2 linked regions of the Homo sapiens genome follow. The protein of the gene in region 1 interacts with the protein of each later gene in a biochemical or structural test. Each region holds a gene or a part of one and is shown in the gene's direction. Other genes may lie near its edges.

Evidence for each region.
Region 2: the proteins of SYN3 (region 1) and NOS1AP form a complex in vitro, tested with the Homo sapiens proteins (one study listed by BioGRID).

Annotation. Positions count from the first base shown.
Region 1 is NC_000022.11:33,055,116-33,063,276, reverse strand, and holds the start of SYN3 (synapsin-3), read left to right. Parts: upstream 1-4,895; 5' UTR 4,896-4,985; exon of another isoform or gene 4,986-6,116; intron 6,117-8,161. UniProt on the Homo sapiens protein: May be involved in the regulation of neurotransmitter release and synaptogenesis.
Region 2 is NC_000001.11:162,352,446-162,360,046, forward strand, and holds part of NOS1AP (carboxyl-terminal PDZ ligand of neuronal nitric oxide synthase protein), read left to right. Parts: intron 1-2,741; coding exon 2,742-2,908; intron 2,909-4,514; coding exon 4,515-4,691; intron 4,692-7,601. UniProt on the Homo sapiens protein: Adapter protein involved in neuronal nitric-oxide (NO) synthesis regulation via its association with nNOS/NOS1. The complex formed with NOS1 and synapsins is necessary for specific NO and synapsin functions at a presynaptic level.

The DNA of each region.
Region 1 (8,161 bases):
GGCACCATGATAGTTATGTAGGGGAAAATATTAATGAGCTTTTTCTATCACCTTAAAAATCTTGCTTTGGATGGACAACCAAAAAGACTCCACTCTTTTCGGTCCGTATGGTTAAGTCTTAGCTAAATGAAGTGGAAACTGTCCTGAATTAGGGCCTAGGTCCCAGGTATAGCTCTGTCACTCACCAGCTGTGTTACATGACACGAAGCTGTGTGTGCTAAAATCACACATGGCCTTTGTTGTCAGACAGAACTGAGTTCGAGTTCTCACCTCAACTATGTATTATCTATATGACCTGGGGCCACCCTCCATTTCTTCAGCTATAAAATGAGGATAATAATACCTCCTTAACAAGATCGGCATATGGGTATATAAAGCATTTAGCAGTGCCTGGTACATAACATGTGTTGAGTAAATGGTAGCTATGATTATAATAATCTATAAACTGTGAATACTATCTATTCTGCCTACTTCGCAGGAGTGCATATGAAATGAGGGAATTTATATGAAAGTACTTTGAAAAACTACAAAATTTACATACGAGAGGGCTATTTCTAGAGTGGTTTTGTTATTATAAGAGCCTGCTCACTTAAAAAAAAAATCTGTTAAGAATAGCAGACTTGGGTTCTTTTCAAAAACAAATAACCTTTTAAACACTACCACCGCCACCCCATGGGGTTGGATTTCTTACTGAGTAGTGAGGGAACATGTATACCTATCACCGTGTGTGCATCCATCTGTATGCAAATTCCTGCGCTGAATTGTTGCCCTGGGGAAAGGATCATATGATGCAATATGTTTCTTTTCTTCCTAGATCCATGAGGATTTTTGGTTAAAAGCAAGAGAAATAATTGGAGTAGCTAACACAAGAAGACAGTTTTAACAGAGATGGGAGACTCACAAAATAAAATTGGGTAGGGGACAGGGATGGCAGGACCAAACTTGAGAAACAGAAATCTAGGAAATTCACGAGGTTGGGCGGCAAGATTCATGACCAAGAGTCCAGGAAACTGCTGCCACCACCATTACTGTAAGCAAGCAGTCTTAGTATGTCCAATTTCTCTCTTCATCTTTGTCACTTTCGGGTGAGGGAAAGTCCCAGGAGTGAGCATCCAATAGGCTCAACTTAGACAACATCCTTTCTTCAAGGATTTTTGGAGTAGTTGGGGAGTGGCAAATTGTGCAAGAATCTGTCCCTGGGAATTGCCAGGTCACCATACAAAAAAAAAAAAAAATCCCCCAAAAGAAACATGGAGTACAAATAGAAATAAACAAGTCTTCTAGGAAGCCACCTTTTGTCAGCTCTCATTCTACTGATGAAGAAGGTTCAGAGAAGTTATTCAAGGACTTAGTTTCAGGTCTCCTGGTTCCTAATCCATGTTGACCCTCCTACACAAAACCCAGCAATTTATAAAATCATAAGCCATTTCTCCAGCTTTAAATGATGTCTAAGGTGGAGGAGATAGGAGTAAAAGGGACTGACTCTACAGAAAGTGATTTTCTGTTTTCAGGCCTTTTTGATTACATGAGATCAGTACATAAGAATAAATAATGCTAGAATGCAGCTGACCTCCAATGCATGATGGGAGAACCTCATTACTGCAAAACCCTTGGTGATATATATTGAGAAGTGGCTACAATACATTGAATTTTCAGTAGAAACCATTAAGCACTCCTGCATCTAATTGCCATTTTTTCTTATTCAGAGTGCAATAAAAAATAATTTTCCATGCAATAATTTATCTGGCTTTCATCTAAACCTCTATGCCATTCTGTTTCCTCTTTCCTTCCTTGCTTCAGACTGACAGCACTGAGGCCTTTTAGATTTACAGACCCAGACATGAATACACACCTTCCATGTTTCCCCAAGCAACATTCCTGTGCATATTTGAAAACCAGTAGTTAAGAAAAATTATGATGATGTTACAGCTCCAAAGGTTACAGTTGGGAGGAGTTTTGGAGGAGCTGTGCTCTAGCCTGAGGGAAACTGAGGCTTAGAAGATATATGTCAGGTAGATGGAGGTAGGGGCGGGCCAAATGCCATTAAAGACTATGCTGGGTTTTTCATTTGGGATTTCCTTGATCCTTTTATTTCCCATTATTGTTCTCATCCAATCTGGACAGACACTATGAGGGTTTCTTTAAAAGGTTGGAGGTATTGTCTAATCCAGAGGTGGAAATAGTCCCTAAGGGGATAAATCCAGCCCATACATGGGTTTGATCTTGTCCAACAGTCTTGGCCAATACAGTCTTTTAAAAAGTTTTAGTTAATTGGCTGGGTGCAGTGGCTCACGCCTGCAATCCCAGCACTTTGGGAGGCCAAGGCGGGCGGATCATGAGGTCAGGAGATCGAGACCCTCTTGGCTAACGCGGTGAAACCCCATCTGTACTAAAAATACAAAAAATTAGCTGGACGTGGTGGCGGGCGCCTGTAGTCCCAGCTACCTGGGAGGCTGAGGAAGGAGAATGGCGTGAACCCGGAAGGCAGAGCTTGCAGTGAGCCGAGATTGCACCACTGCAATCTCGACAATCCACTGCAATCCAGCCTGGGCGACAGAGCGAGACTCCGTCTCAGAAAAAAAAAAAAAAAAAGTTGTAGTTAATTACCAGCATTTAAAAAAACCAGAGATTTAACATAATCTGAATTTCTGGCCTCTTAATAAAAATCAGGGTCTGGTGTGGTGGCTCACGCCTATAATCCCAGCACTTTGGGAGGCCAAGGTGGGCAGATCACGAGGTTAGAAGTTCGAGACCAGTCTGGCCAACATGGTGAAACCCTGTCTCTACTAAAAATACACAAATTAGCCAGACGTGGTGGTGGGCGCCTGTAATTCCAGCTGCTTGGGAGGCAGGAGAATTGCTTGAACCAGGGAGGCGGAGGTTGCGGTGAGCTGAGATCGCACCACTGCACTCTAGCCTGGGTGACAGAGCAGGACTCAGTCTCGATAAAAAACAAACAAACAAAAAACAGAACATCTGGCAACTCTGGGTGGGTCTCCATTCACATATGGCAAAAATCAGTTGGAGCTGAGCAGTGACTGTCACCTTAGGCAGGTGTGCATACCTCAGTCTGTCACAAGCCCCATCCCTCCTTTCTATTATACCCTGCCAACCTCACTTAGTACATGACTACCCGGCCACGTCGGTATTAAAGTTTGTGATCCTTCAGCTAGTCTTATGCCCTCTTAGTTACTGAGGTTAGAGTCACTCCCTCTTAGTTACTGAGATCATGTACTAACGCTCATGCAGTAAGTGGAAGATGCTGGGTAAGAACCTTCCCGATCTTGGAAATAGTACCATTACTCCACAGTGGCTCAAGCTAAACACCTAGGAGATTTTCTTCTTTCATCCCTTTACGTCAACCCCTGTCATAGTCTATTTTGTGCCAATATAACAGAATATCACAGACTGGGTAATTTATAAGGAACAACAATTTATTTAGCTCATGGCTCTGGAGGCTGGGAAGTCCAAGATTGAGGGGCTGCATCTGGTAAGGGCCTTCATGCTGAGTCACCCCATGGCACAAGGCAGAACAAGAGAGCAGCAGAGGGGTGGGGAGAGGGCCACTCCTGGCATTAATGGAATCACCTCTTAAAGGTCCCACCTCTCAACACTGTTGCATTGGGGATTAAGTTTCCAAGATATGAACTTTGGGGAACATATTTAAACCATAGCATCCCCTAAATCCAGCCTAATCCATCATCAAGCCTTCCTGTGCTACTTTTGACACACATTGCAGGAGGTCCACCTTTTCCGTATCTTGCTGTCACCACCCTGGTCTTCATCACCATAATCTCTTGCCTGAATTGTTCCCTCCAGATTGATATGACAAAGCCCTGACCCTCACGGTGGCCTACAAGGTTCTGGGTGATGGTGATTCCACACTAGTCTACCTCTCTGGCTGTAACCCACTCTCCCCTTGCTCACCTCACTCAGCCACCCTGGGGGCCAGTTCCAGCTTCAGAACCATGCATCGGCCGACCCCTCTGTCAGCAATGCTCTTGCTTCAGCCCTGGAATCGTTTTTGTCCTCCAAGTATCCAATATCACAAGCGGCCCGGAGACCACCCTAGGTATAGCAGTCCTAGACCCCTTTCTTTTTCTTTTCTTTTTTTTGGAGACGGCATCTAGCTCTGTTGCCCAGGCTGGAGTGCAGTGGCTCTAACTCGGCTTACTGTAACTTCCACCTCCCGGGTCCAAGCAATTCTGCCTCAGCCTCCCGAGTAGCTAGGACTACAGGTGAGGGCCACCATGCCCAGCTAATTTTTGTATTTTTAGTAGAGACGGGGTTTTATCATCTTGGCCAGGCTGGTCTTGAACTCCCGACCTCGTGATTCACCTGCCTCGGCCTCCCAAAGTGCTGGGATTACAGGCGTGAGCCACAGGCACCCAGCCGACATTCTCTTGTTTTTTTCGTTTGTTGTATATAACCTACCCCCACCTCCACCCCATGCAAAGTCCACGAGGACGATAGACTTTGTCTTGTTCCCTGTTGCATCCTGGCCCTAGGGCCTAGCCCACAACCTGGGACATTTCCTGACAAGGGGCCCTGGTTTCTCTGAGGTGCCACCTGAGGTCCGGGAGGTCAGCTGACTTTCCCAAAGGTGGATTCCAAGGACACTGCATTCTTCGCACTCCCCGAGGGGCGTCTAGACACTCCTGGGACCCAGAATTATTAGCTAACTGGGCTCCTGAGTCCGGTGAGAGCTCAGAGTCTAGAAGCAACTTTCCCTGCCTGGAGAGGTGAACCCAGCAAGGCGTTGGGGAGAGGCGTGGGCGAGGGAGTGGGCGCGGGTGGGCGGGGCCGTCCGGGGGCCTCGTTGCCCGAGCCAATGGGGCGCCGCGGCGCGGGGAGGCCGGGCCGCCGGGCGGGGGCGCTCGCGCGCGTTGAGGGGCAGAGGCTGAGCTCCCGGGACCCGGAGCGGATCGACTGGCGGGCGCCGCGCCGAGGCACCACCGGGCGCCGAGTTCCTGGCGGCTCGCACGGTAAGCGGCGCGGCGCCGCAAAGTAGACTTTGTGGGGTTTCTGACAGCCGGGAGACCCCACCTCGAGCGGGGGCTGCTGGTGCGTTCTCGCGTCGGGCTGCGTCCCCTGGAGCTCCGGCTCTGTGTCCGCGGGATGCGGGCGCACGGAGGGGCAGGGAGGGAGGCAAGGAGCCGCGCACCACGGTGTCTCCCCAGGCTGCCGCTGCCGGGGCCCTGGGCCGGTCCCTGGGACAGACAGATCGGCGTGCGGGGGCCGTCTGCCGGGCCCGGGAGCCGGGGGCGCGCAAGACTGTGGATCCTAAGACTGCCTCCACCCAGCGCCCGGCCCGGGGAAGAGCTTGCGGGAAACCAGGAACCGCAGCGGCCGGACCTCTGCTCTGCGCCGGCTCCTAGGACCTGCCTTAGGTCCCCAGACCCCTCATGACCTGTTGCCTTGGGTTTGGGAGGTCAGGTTTGTCATGCCATTTCCGATTTCCAGTCATCCTGGGGGCAGGATGAAATTTCAGAGTGGTTTCCTGGCCAAGCTAGAAGCAGAGAATAGCTATGGATACAGCACCTCGTGTATCTATCCAGCACTTACTTGGCTTTTTCTGAGTGCCAGGAACTGTGCCAAGCCCTAGCAGCATGAAGAATGGCCTTTGGGGAGCTTCTGGGGCTAAGAGGGACAGTAGGAGGAGCAATTGCAGTGCAGGGTAGTGCGGAAGACTCGAGATGGAGAAGAGGACGGTGAGGAAGCCAGGAAGGTTTCAGAGAGGAGGTGAGCATTGACTGGAAGTCGGAGGTTTTGCCAGGCTGAAAAGTGTGTTGGGACTGTGAGTTGATAGGGAGCAGGAATTCCAGGTGGGTTTTCTTGTGTAAAGGTAAAGAAACTGAAAAGGTCCGGTGTCCTGACCTAGCACATCAGATAATTCTACAGCAGATAATGGAGTAGGACCGGGTCTTGCTGTAGGTAGGAAATGAGCTCTCGACATGGCAGGAAGCTAAAACCTGCACAGACCTTAAAGTGCAGCCTTAGAATATTTAGAATTTTATCCTGGAATGAAGGAGGGCCGTGGAAGAATTCTGATCAGTGATCAGGTCCCTCTGGCAGCTCTGGGGACAATGGATGGAGGCCGGAGCATCAGAAAGCTGGTAAGTTGTAGTTGTTTTCTGGTCCTTGGCTGCAAATACTCTTCCCTGCTTAAGGGAGCCCCCTCTGCCCGGGAGCCCTGCTCCCTGGCTTCTGGACATGGATTCAGGCAAAGAGATGCTGCCCGTGTAATGCTTGCTTCTGCAGCCTGCACATCATTTTGATATTGTTTCTGGAGCCTGTGACCTCAGTCTTGTCATCAGGCCTCTGAAGGGTGCCTCTGCTCTTCTTTTCTCATCTTCAAGCCCTCTGTGTGCCCTTCCCCTCTGCCTGGGCTCCCCTTTCTGTTTCACAGAGATCCAGTCTCAGCCATTGGAGGCAAGGCTGTGTGTAGATTGGTGTAGTAGAAAGAACAAGGGCTCGCTGGGAAATCAGACCAGAAAGTCACTTTAGCCATAGGCTTTGGGGACATTAGCAACCTTCATGAACCTTCTTTTTCTGATTTAAAAGGAAATCATTGTACTCACCTGTCATGGTTTGGGTTCCCTGGAAAAAGACTTGGCGCTTCTGAGATTTTTGTGCAGATAAGGGAAGCAGAACTGGGCAGAGGGAGATGTTGATCTATGGTGCAGTGCAAGAGAGGTCTCAATCCCTCCCATGAGACAAAGAGACGAGGCCTTTGAAGCTTAATGTTGATCAGCCAGTGGGTGCAGGCTGGTCCTAGGGAGGGAGCTAGGATGTCCCTTCAGCAGGACAGTTCCTGACTAGGGACTCACCTGGGAGCTGGGGTAACCAACACTCTGGCAGCTGGACATGGGGAAGTCATGAGTGTCTTGGTCTTGGAGGGGGAGTTGAGCATTTCCCCACGGTATCCACTACACTACCTCACAAATGAAGTAGTGCTTTGTACTGTGCCTGGTGCATAGTAGATATCTTAAAAGTATTCATTTCTCTCACCTTTAAGTTTCATGACTGCACCTGAAAATGAGTTTTGGAATTCGAGTTGAGTCAGCTTTTGTGAGGAGCTTTTAATAATAATAGCCACGAAGACTACTGCTTCCCTTTTTTGAGTGTCTATTATGTATATACATTCTCTTCTAGTTGTCCAATAATACTCCAACTTAGGTACTTTTATTCTCATTTTATAGTAAACCCAGTCTCTTCCAAAACCCAACCAAGTTGATGTTCTTTTGCCACAAAATAATAATTATAATAATAACAATCACTCACAACTCTATGATTTGTTACACTTTCCAAAGTGCTTTCATTGGTGGATTGATTGATTAATCATTCATTCATCCACTAATTAATCAATCAATGTGTATTGAGTGTCTCTTAAGGAGTAGGCGCTATCCTAGGTGATGGGGAGAAAGCTCAGTCTATTAGAGGAGATAGACATTAAATGCTTGGATTCATCAAAAGCAAGTGTTGAGGGGTGGAACATTGCATTGCATAGCCAGTATGTGATAGAGAATAACAGGCTCTTTGTCCAATTGACTCCTTGCCTTCAGTTTCAATATAACCTTCTTGGAAAGGCCTTCTGTACTCCCTCCCTTTTATTCTCCCTTCGTAACAGTCATTTATCTATTTTATTTACTTTCCTATTGTTGGTCCTCCCCTTTAGACTGCAGACTCCAGGGGATCATACATTGCTTCATCCCAAGAGCCTACCACAGGGTTTAGCACATATTTCTTAAATGAGTGAAATGAATGAAGGGTGGATGTGCTTAACAGTGTAGTCAGGGAAGGTCTCCCAAAGTAGTGATATTTACACTGAGATCTGGGGAATGAGAAAGATCCGGCAACGCCAAGATCAAGAGGCAGAGAGAACAGCTTATTCAAAGACCGCGAGGTGGAGGAATGGAGGCTATTGTGGTTGGAGCGCATAGTGGGCAAATTGTGTGGAGTGGCCCGAGATGAGTTTGAAGGCAGTGGAGTCTTGGAGGCCATGCTGAGCTTACATTTTTATCTAAAGTGCAACAAACGAATCATTGAAGGATTTTAAGCCTGATGTGATAGTGTATATTTGTGTGTTGTCTGTTATGCCTCTGGGAGGAGAACTCCTTGAAGAAAGGTGCTTAGTAAATAGTGCTTAAATGAATGGATG
Region 2 (7,601 bases), on another chromosome or scaffold:
GATTTCAACTAAAGTTTATCTTTAGGCCAGGCCTTTTTCCTGAACTTTCCATTCATGCACTATAGTAATCTACACAGCCTGCCATAATAAAATGCAGTAGATTGGATGGCTTAAACAACATTTATTTCTGACAGTTTTGGAGGCTGAGAAGTCCAAGATTAAGGTGCCAGCCAATTTGGTTCCTGGTGAGAACTCTCTTCTGGTTCGCAAACAGCTGCCTTTTTGCTGTGTCCTCACAGGGTGGAAAGAGAGGGATCTCCTACATCGCTTCTTATAAGGGCATGAATCCCATCATGAGGACTGCATTCTCATGATCTAATTACCTCCCAAAAGCTCATCTCCAAGTGCTATTACATTGGGAGCTAAGGCTTCGACATATGAACACCAACATTCAGTCCATAACATACCCAACAGCCTAATAGGTATCCCTACTTGACTGTTACACAGACTCTTACAATGTCAACAGGTTTAAAACTGAACTCATCTTCTTACCTGCAATCCTGCTTCTCCTGGATTTTTCCTATAGGATGCCATTCTCCATTCAGTCACCTGAATCAGATATTTTAAGACTCATCCTGCACATATCCCCACCCCCGCCCCCACCACAGACAAGCAAACCCTGTGCTTTCTGCCCCCTGACGATCCTTCGAATCCATCTCTTCTCCATGTTATTGCCATTGTCTTCACTCAAGCCCTCATATTTTCCACCTAGAGTATCACTTTCTCTCATTGCTGCTGGATCTATCCTCCATACTATATCTAGAGTGAAATTTTGAAGGATGAAAATGTTTTGGTATTACTTGCTTTCAGTCCCTCAAGATAAAATGCTGACTCGTCCTGGTCAGGTCCCTCCCTACGGGACCACTTGCATTGCCTGACATGCCGTGGACTTCCTGCCTCTGTGCCTCTCTGCCCCTGCCCCCGCGCCCGGCCAAACCTGACAAATTTTCTGATTCCACCTGGGCTTCTGGCGAGGCCCTGTCCAAACCCTCTGTGTCTGGGGCTTCTTAGTTCTTGTTATTAGGATCTCCAGGGATGGGAAGTAGATAAGCAGCCTTCTCCTGCAGCCTGTTCTCCTGTTTTGCTACCCTGTCACTACATTACTTACTTTGTCAGTATTTATGGAACACTTTCTCTGTGCCAGAGAAACATTTTTAGGAAACATGAATGAGACACAGCCTGGCCTCAAGTCTGTAAGGGAAGACTGATGGCCAGGCACATCCAATATCATGTGCTAAGTGCACAGAACACTGCAGTAGCCCAGCTTCTCCTGATCACTGATAGAAATTTCACCCTGCTTTTTCCTGTACAGGCATGGAGAACCAAACGCTTAGTTCCCAGCACCACCCACCTACCGACCCTCCATCTCTCAGGCTAAGCACCCAGCCATCAAGACGGTCACTTCCAGGTGCAGGCTGTGGTAGAAAGCAGGCTGCTCCCTGTGCTCCCCGCCTACTGGCTGACCAAGGGGCAGAAGAGCTTCCCCTTCCCTGCCCCCACTAGCTGCAGTCAGAACCATCTTTTCTGTTAAACGCCTTTGCAGCCCTCCACAGGACTGTCTCCTCAGCTCCTGGAGTAGCCAGGAAGAAAACCAAGCCCACTGTTTACTTTCTAAATGCCAGGCTTGTTTCCCTTGATGACTTGTGTAGGTTTGCATAGGAAAACTTCTTAGAACAATTTGTTCTACAAGGCAAGCACTCAAATGGCCAAGGCCTGGTTGCCTGGGCTAGCTTCAGCACTGGGGCATCAGCTCTGTGTCTCCTGCTTTACATCCACCTGTTCCATTTTATAATTGGTGCGTGGTCTCTGAAAACTCATGAGAAATCTTATTTAAAGACGGCAGTAATTAACCTAATTGCAAATATAGAAAATGAAAATATTTCCTATGAAATGCCCAGGAGTTGTCAGATGTTTTTACAGAATCCCAGAAATAGGATCAAGGAAGGAAGATAAGTAGGAAATAGCAGGGCTTTCATACATTGGTATTAAGCAGTATGCTGTGCCTGTGGTTAAATATTAAGTAAAGACATGGCCATTGTCTTCAGTGGAAAGGAAGAAATGTGGGAAGTAGAAAAATTAGATAAGGAAGCATGGAAAAGCAGCCACCCCATCTCTCTCCTCCTCCCCGTGCCACTTCCTGCAGGCGTCTTCCTGGCTTCTGCTGTTGGTGAGAGGATCAGGCTCTGAGGGCTGGGAGATTGATACTGTGTTAAAATGCAGCCTCACATCTCCCTGCCTTATTCCTCAGTCATGGAACCCTACCTGTCCATCTAACTGAGCTTCTAATTCTGTAGTTAAAGAAACATGGCCCAGAGAGTGAGGGGATTTGCTTCTTGTCCAGCAGTTTATTGGAGGCCCAACCTCCTCATTTCTGGACCCCCGGGCCAGGGCCCTTTCCCTTGACTGCTTCCGTTCCTGAGCTGCGATGACATGGAGATGATCAGCATCCCCTTCTTCCAGTGTACCTTGTCAATATATTCCTGTGAACCTGGCAAAACTTTTACATCCAGGCTTGAGGAAGTATTGCCTTTTTTTCTGGACTTTGAAAAGATACTAAGATGAGAACATCTTACTGGGCTGGAAATGCACTTTAACGTACTTGAGTGAAAAGATGTGTGAAAATGTTACAAAGCCAGTGGCATCCCTAGGCTCAACATGCCTGAAAGCTAAAGTATTAGGAAAGGAGGACTTTGTTCTCGGTGTTTTCATTCTCTTCCCTCCCTCCCCTGTTGTTCCTGCAGGCCGCCAGCTCACTGGAGCCGAGAGGGCCTCCACGGCCACTGCAGAGGAGACTGACATCGATGCGGTGGAGGTCCCACTTCCAGGGAATGATGTCCTGGAATTCAGCCGAGGTGTGACTGATCTAGATGCTGTAGGGAAGGAAGGAGGCTCTCACACAGGCTCCAAGGTAGGCAAGAGATGGCCCATCTGTGTGATCTGCACACGTGTGCCCTCAGGTCATCAGTCACTTCCTAGCCCCTGCCAGCTCAGCTTCCGAGTGAGGCACTCCATGGCACAGTGGCGGTGCCAGAGCGCACTTCATTGCCTTTCAGAAGGTCTGACTTCCAGAGGGTCTGAACACTAGATGCTGCTGCAGGCCAGGATGCTGTGGAGCTGATTCCTGACACACATCGCCCTCCCCAAATCCCACCAATATTTGGTCTCCTACTCCCTGGCACCCTCTTCCCTTAACAGCATCTCATCTTTGCACAGTATTTTGCAAGGCTCACTCTGGCACACACACACACAGACTCCCCTGTGACTTAGCTAGTAGAGCAAAGTCAGTTTGGGCCCGCTCTGCCTGCAGTAGCGGTGGTATACCGTTGGTAATTCCTGTGGATAGCACTTTGGAGTCTGGAAGTTGGCCCACTGGATGTCAGAAACTGAGAGACCACCTTAGTCTTCATCAGCTCTAACCTAACATCATATAGGTGAGATGACTGTGGCATCTGGGGGTTCCTAATGTGATCCAATTAAGAAACTAAGAACTTGAGATCAAATTCCAACCTGAAGCCAAAGCTAATTAAAAATGTTTTAAACCCAGAAGCAAAATTACTGACCAATAGCTCTACCCTTAGATTCCCAGGCGGTTTATATCAGGGCACCTCTCTCTCTTTAACATTCATATCTTATCTCACATGGAGGTTTGGAGGGCAGTTCAGTTCTAAACTAGCTGCCTGACGTTTCCTTTGGAACCAGTTTATCCTCTACAAGTGGAAACAGCCCTGTGTCACTGGGGGCCTTCCTTGTGTATGTCTGAAGAAGTCCCCACAGCAGAACTGCCAGAAACAAAATGTCTTTCCCTGCCATGGAATTCTATGAATCGTAGAAGCCATCTTGGTAAAAATGTCCACAGGAGAGGGAGACAGAAGGAAAGGAGGGAAGGACACAGGAACTTCTTTCATCTAAGAGGATCTCTCCAGATCATTATATATTTTAGGATCCAAACTTCTTTGCCGATGGTTCTCACCAGAGGCAGTGGAGGGCAGGAGGTAGCCCCCTCACATGGCCCCTTCCTCCAGGACCCAGCTCCACGCTTCTCCCAACAAGGGAGAAGGAACATCTCAGACCCTGGAGGAGGGAGCCCTAAGGACACAGCAGAGTAGAGGATTGAAGCTGGGTCCTTCCTGTTATCATGGTAGGGTGGATGGAAGCTACGTTTTCCTAAAATAGATTCTTCTAAGTCTAGAACCTCAAGGAACTCAGTGACAGGGTATCATTGGAAGTGGTGGGCAAGAGATGGAGCAGTATCAGCCATCAGTCTCCCATCGGGGTCAGTTACCGAGGTGTCCCCCTAGTCCCCCTACGATTTTCTGACTGTGTGGTATCAGCCCAGGCAGCTACACCATTTCCTTTCTGGGCCTCTACTCCCATTTCCATTGAAGATATAGTGCTGTCAGCTTATGGGTTGTAAGTGTGCCAATTTGCTCCTCCTGAGTGCATGCCAAAGAGAGGGAGGCCCCTCAAGATGGCTCCTGCCACATGTCATGTCCTGTCTTCTCCTTCTCCTCCAGGTTTCGCACCCCCAGGAGCCCATGCTGACAGCCTCACCCAGGATGCTGCTCCCTTCTTCTTCCTCGAAGCCTCCAGGCCTGGGCACAGAGACACCGCTGTCCACTCACCACCAGATGCAGCTCCTCCAGCAGCTCCTCCAGCAGCAGCAGCAGCAGACACAAGTGGCTGTGGCCCAGGTTCTCCTCAGCCTCCTCCCTACTTCGCAGGCTCCACTCTCATGGGCTTGATGCACCTTCCCTAGCGAGGGGCTCAGGGCAGGTTTAAAATCTAGGGAGTCATAAGGAATCGCTCATGCTATTGGATCATTGCTTGTTGGGGAGTGGGGGCAGCGGGAGGGGGATAGATGGGGGATGCAGTTGAAATGGAGAGGCACATTTTGGTTTCCCATGTATCCCCTGCTCTGAGCTGGGCTTGGCTGGCTTGGCTGAATGTTGTTAATGACTTGAACTGACCAAGGGAAAAGATGCACACAATTCCACCCTTCCTTTCCTGCCTTACTTTCCTGATATTTGGGGTGGAAAGTGATGCCTTTGGAGTCAGAACAGTTGTGGCTTTATGATACCACTCTTAAAACAGCTTAAAGTATGAATTTGTGCCAAACACTGTTGTAAAAAGATTACTACCCTAGCATCCCAGTCTCCGTGTCTATAACAGGTTTCCCAGCCTTCATTACGATCTACTTATTCCAGGCAGTATTTGATTGGAATTCATTATTGTAGGATTTAACTTACAGGAATTTAGGTGTATTATTTGAGCCATAATGAAAAGAATTGGCTTAGATCTCAGAATCAAGGTGGTGTTTGTACCCCAAAAAACTTGTTCGGGGGCTGCTACATTATAGGGGAGGGTGAGCTGATTTCCCTTGCTGCTTTCAGCAGGGATTCTTCTTGTTTGCTTTCTATAGAGGGCGCTGTAGTCCACATCTTTCTTGGGAAGTCTGAGCTCCCTCTCTACCACCAGCACTCAGGGAATGGTGAAGACATTCATTCATACCCAAGGCTGAATCCTGAGGCGAGAGGCAGGGTCAGGGCCTGATGAGTGCATGAAGATCTTAGGAGACGGGGCAGTTGGGGCTTGGAAGAATTGGTAAAGGATCTGGAAAGGCAGCCTGCATCAACATTCTAAATCTGCTTGACCAGACTGTTGACCACTTAGGTTTTCTGCATTCTAGAATGGCGGGGAGCAGACTTCTCCAGGGAGCACTTATTGCTCTCTGTTATGTCTTCTGCTTACTCTTGTCCTGGCTCTTGAGTGGACTGAATCATCCAGCCAGAGATATCCTTTCCACCTTTCCACCTTGAGGAGGCATCCGGCGTCCTGGCCATAACAGGATCTGCTATGACTCAGGGTTTGAAGAAGACCTTCTTGTAACACGGTCTCTCCTGACCTGGGCCTGAGATGCAAGGCTCATGGATGACTTTTGCAGCCAGGTTTCAGGAGAGTAGAGTCAATGGGACACAGCTCTCAAGTTATCGGAGTCTTTTTAAAAAGTCTTACCATGAAACAAAAGGATATCTCGTGATGCTAGGAGGATTTGCAGGTGTTCCCAAAACAGCAACAGAGAGGGGGAATGTCATTAATGGCTTCTTATATTTGGAGAAAAAAAATCATTTCTCTTTGTCAAATAAAAGAATCCATCTCCTGTAGTTAATGATGGCACAGCAGTCTGAGAATCCCCTCCCTAGTGTGACAGTTGACAGGAGCACAAAGACTAAGCACTGCAGCACGGGTCCATTCTCAGACTCATTTCATTTCCACAAGTTTCCCATTGAATACAGAACATAATACTTTTATTTTGCAGCGTATCAATTGCCAAGTAATTATTATTTATCTAAGAGTGGGCTTGATGCATATTCATGATATGATTTTATCAGGGAGGCATTTGAATTCGAAGTCACTGCTAAGTACTAGAGAGAAACTATTTGCAAATGTGTAATCCACACAATAGTGTTGTGGCGGTGGAAGGAAGCATTCAATCTCCAAAGCAACAAGACATGTAACTTATCACAGGTCTACTACAGTCAGGATGAAACCTTAAGAGTAGTTTTCTGGTATAGAATCAATTGTCAGTCTCCATGGGAAATCCTGCCCTGGCCCTGTTTTAATTGTGTCTCTCCTAGAAGACAATGAATCTAGGGGAAGGAAAGGGTGTGGTATTAGAGATTTGCTTCATGAGCCTCTCTCGGTTCCACATGTCCACAGGCTGAGCACCCTTAGCCTCTCACTCACTTGGAATCTGTTGAATATAGTTGCCCTGCTTGACTCTCAATACAAGCAGTGTGGTGATCAAAAGGCCACCATACTGCATCTGTGTCCCACATTTGTGAGATGACTTTAGGGAGAGTCTTAGGCTTCCAAAATCATCAGATAGGACGTTGGGGTCATCTGATAGGTTCTTGAACATACTCCTGTACCTCTGTCTGCCATGCCCATCTGTCTCTGACTACCTTCTTTCTGTTCGCATCTTGCTTTTGCTGTCCAGGACCACAGCAGGGATATTGTACATTTCAGCTGGCTTTCAGCTCTCCTGTCCTGCAGACGGATTCGGTCCTAAACTGACCTTCAGTTAGAGGTTTCTCCGCACACTGTTCATTCTTCCACTTTCTTTGTAGTGTTTAATTCAAGGGCTTTTTTACTAGTGTCTATATCCTTGGGTAAAAACAATTACGTAAGATGTAGCTGGATTAATAGGTGGGTCTTCTTGGCATCTTTCACACATTTGAAATAGACCAAGTATAGCAAGCTTGGTTTCTCTACGCGGGGGGGGGCTGATTTCAGTTTCCAGCACGAGGTCAGCTCTTACTTGTTCTGTCAGACTCTATTGCCACCAAACTGCAAGGCTTCTGTCTGTCTTTATTAAACTACCAGCAGTCCCCAGAATTCCAGTGAGTAAAACTATGACCTCAGCCTTTCAGGTGGGAATAGTTTCCTTCTCTCGGAGAGCATCCAAATCCTCCTATGTTGTTCCTGGATAAAAATCTAAGGATAAAGACAGTTTCTTGCAGACAAGTGTACCCTTGATGTCACTTGTTGCACTATTTATGTCGTCCCCCCCCCACCACCCCCATTTCTTCCCACAGACTAGT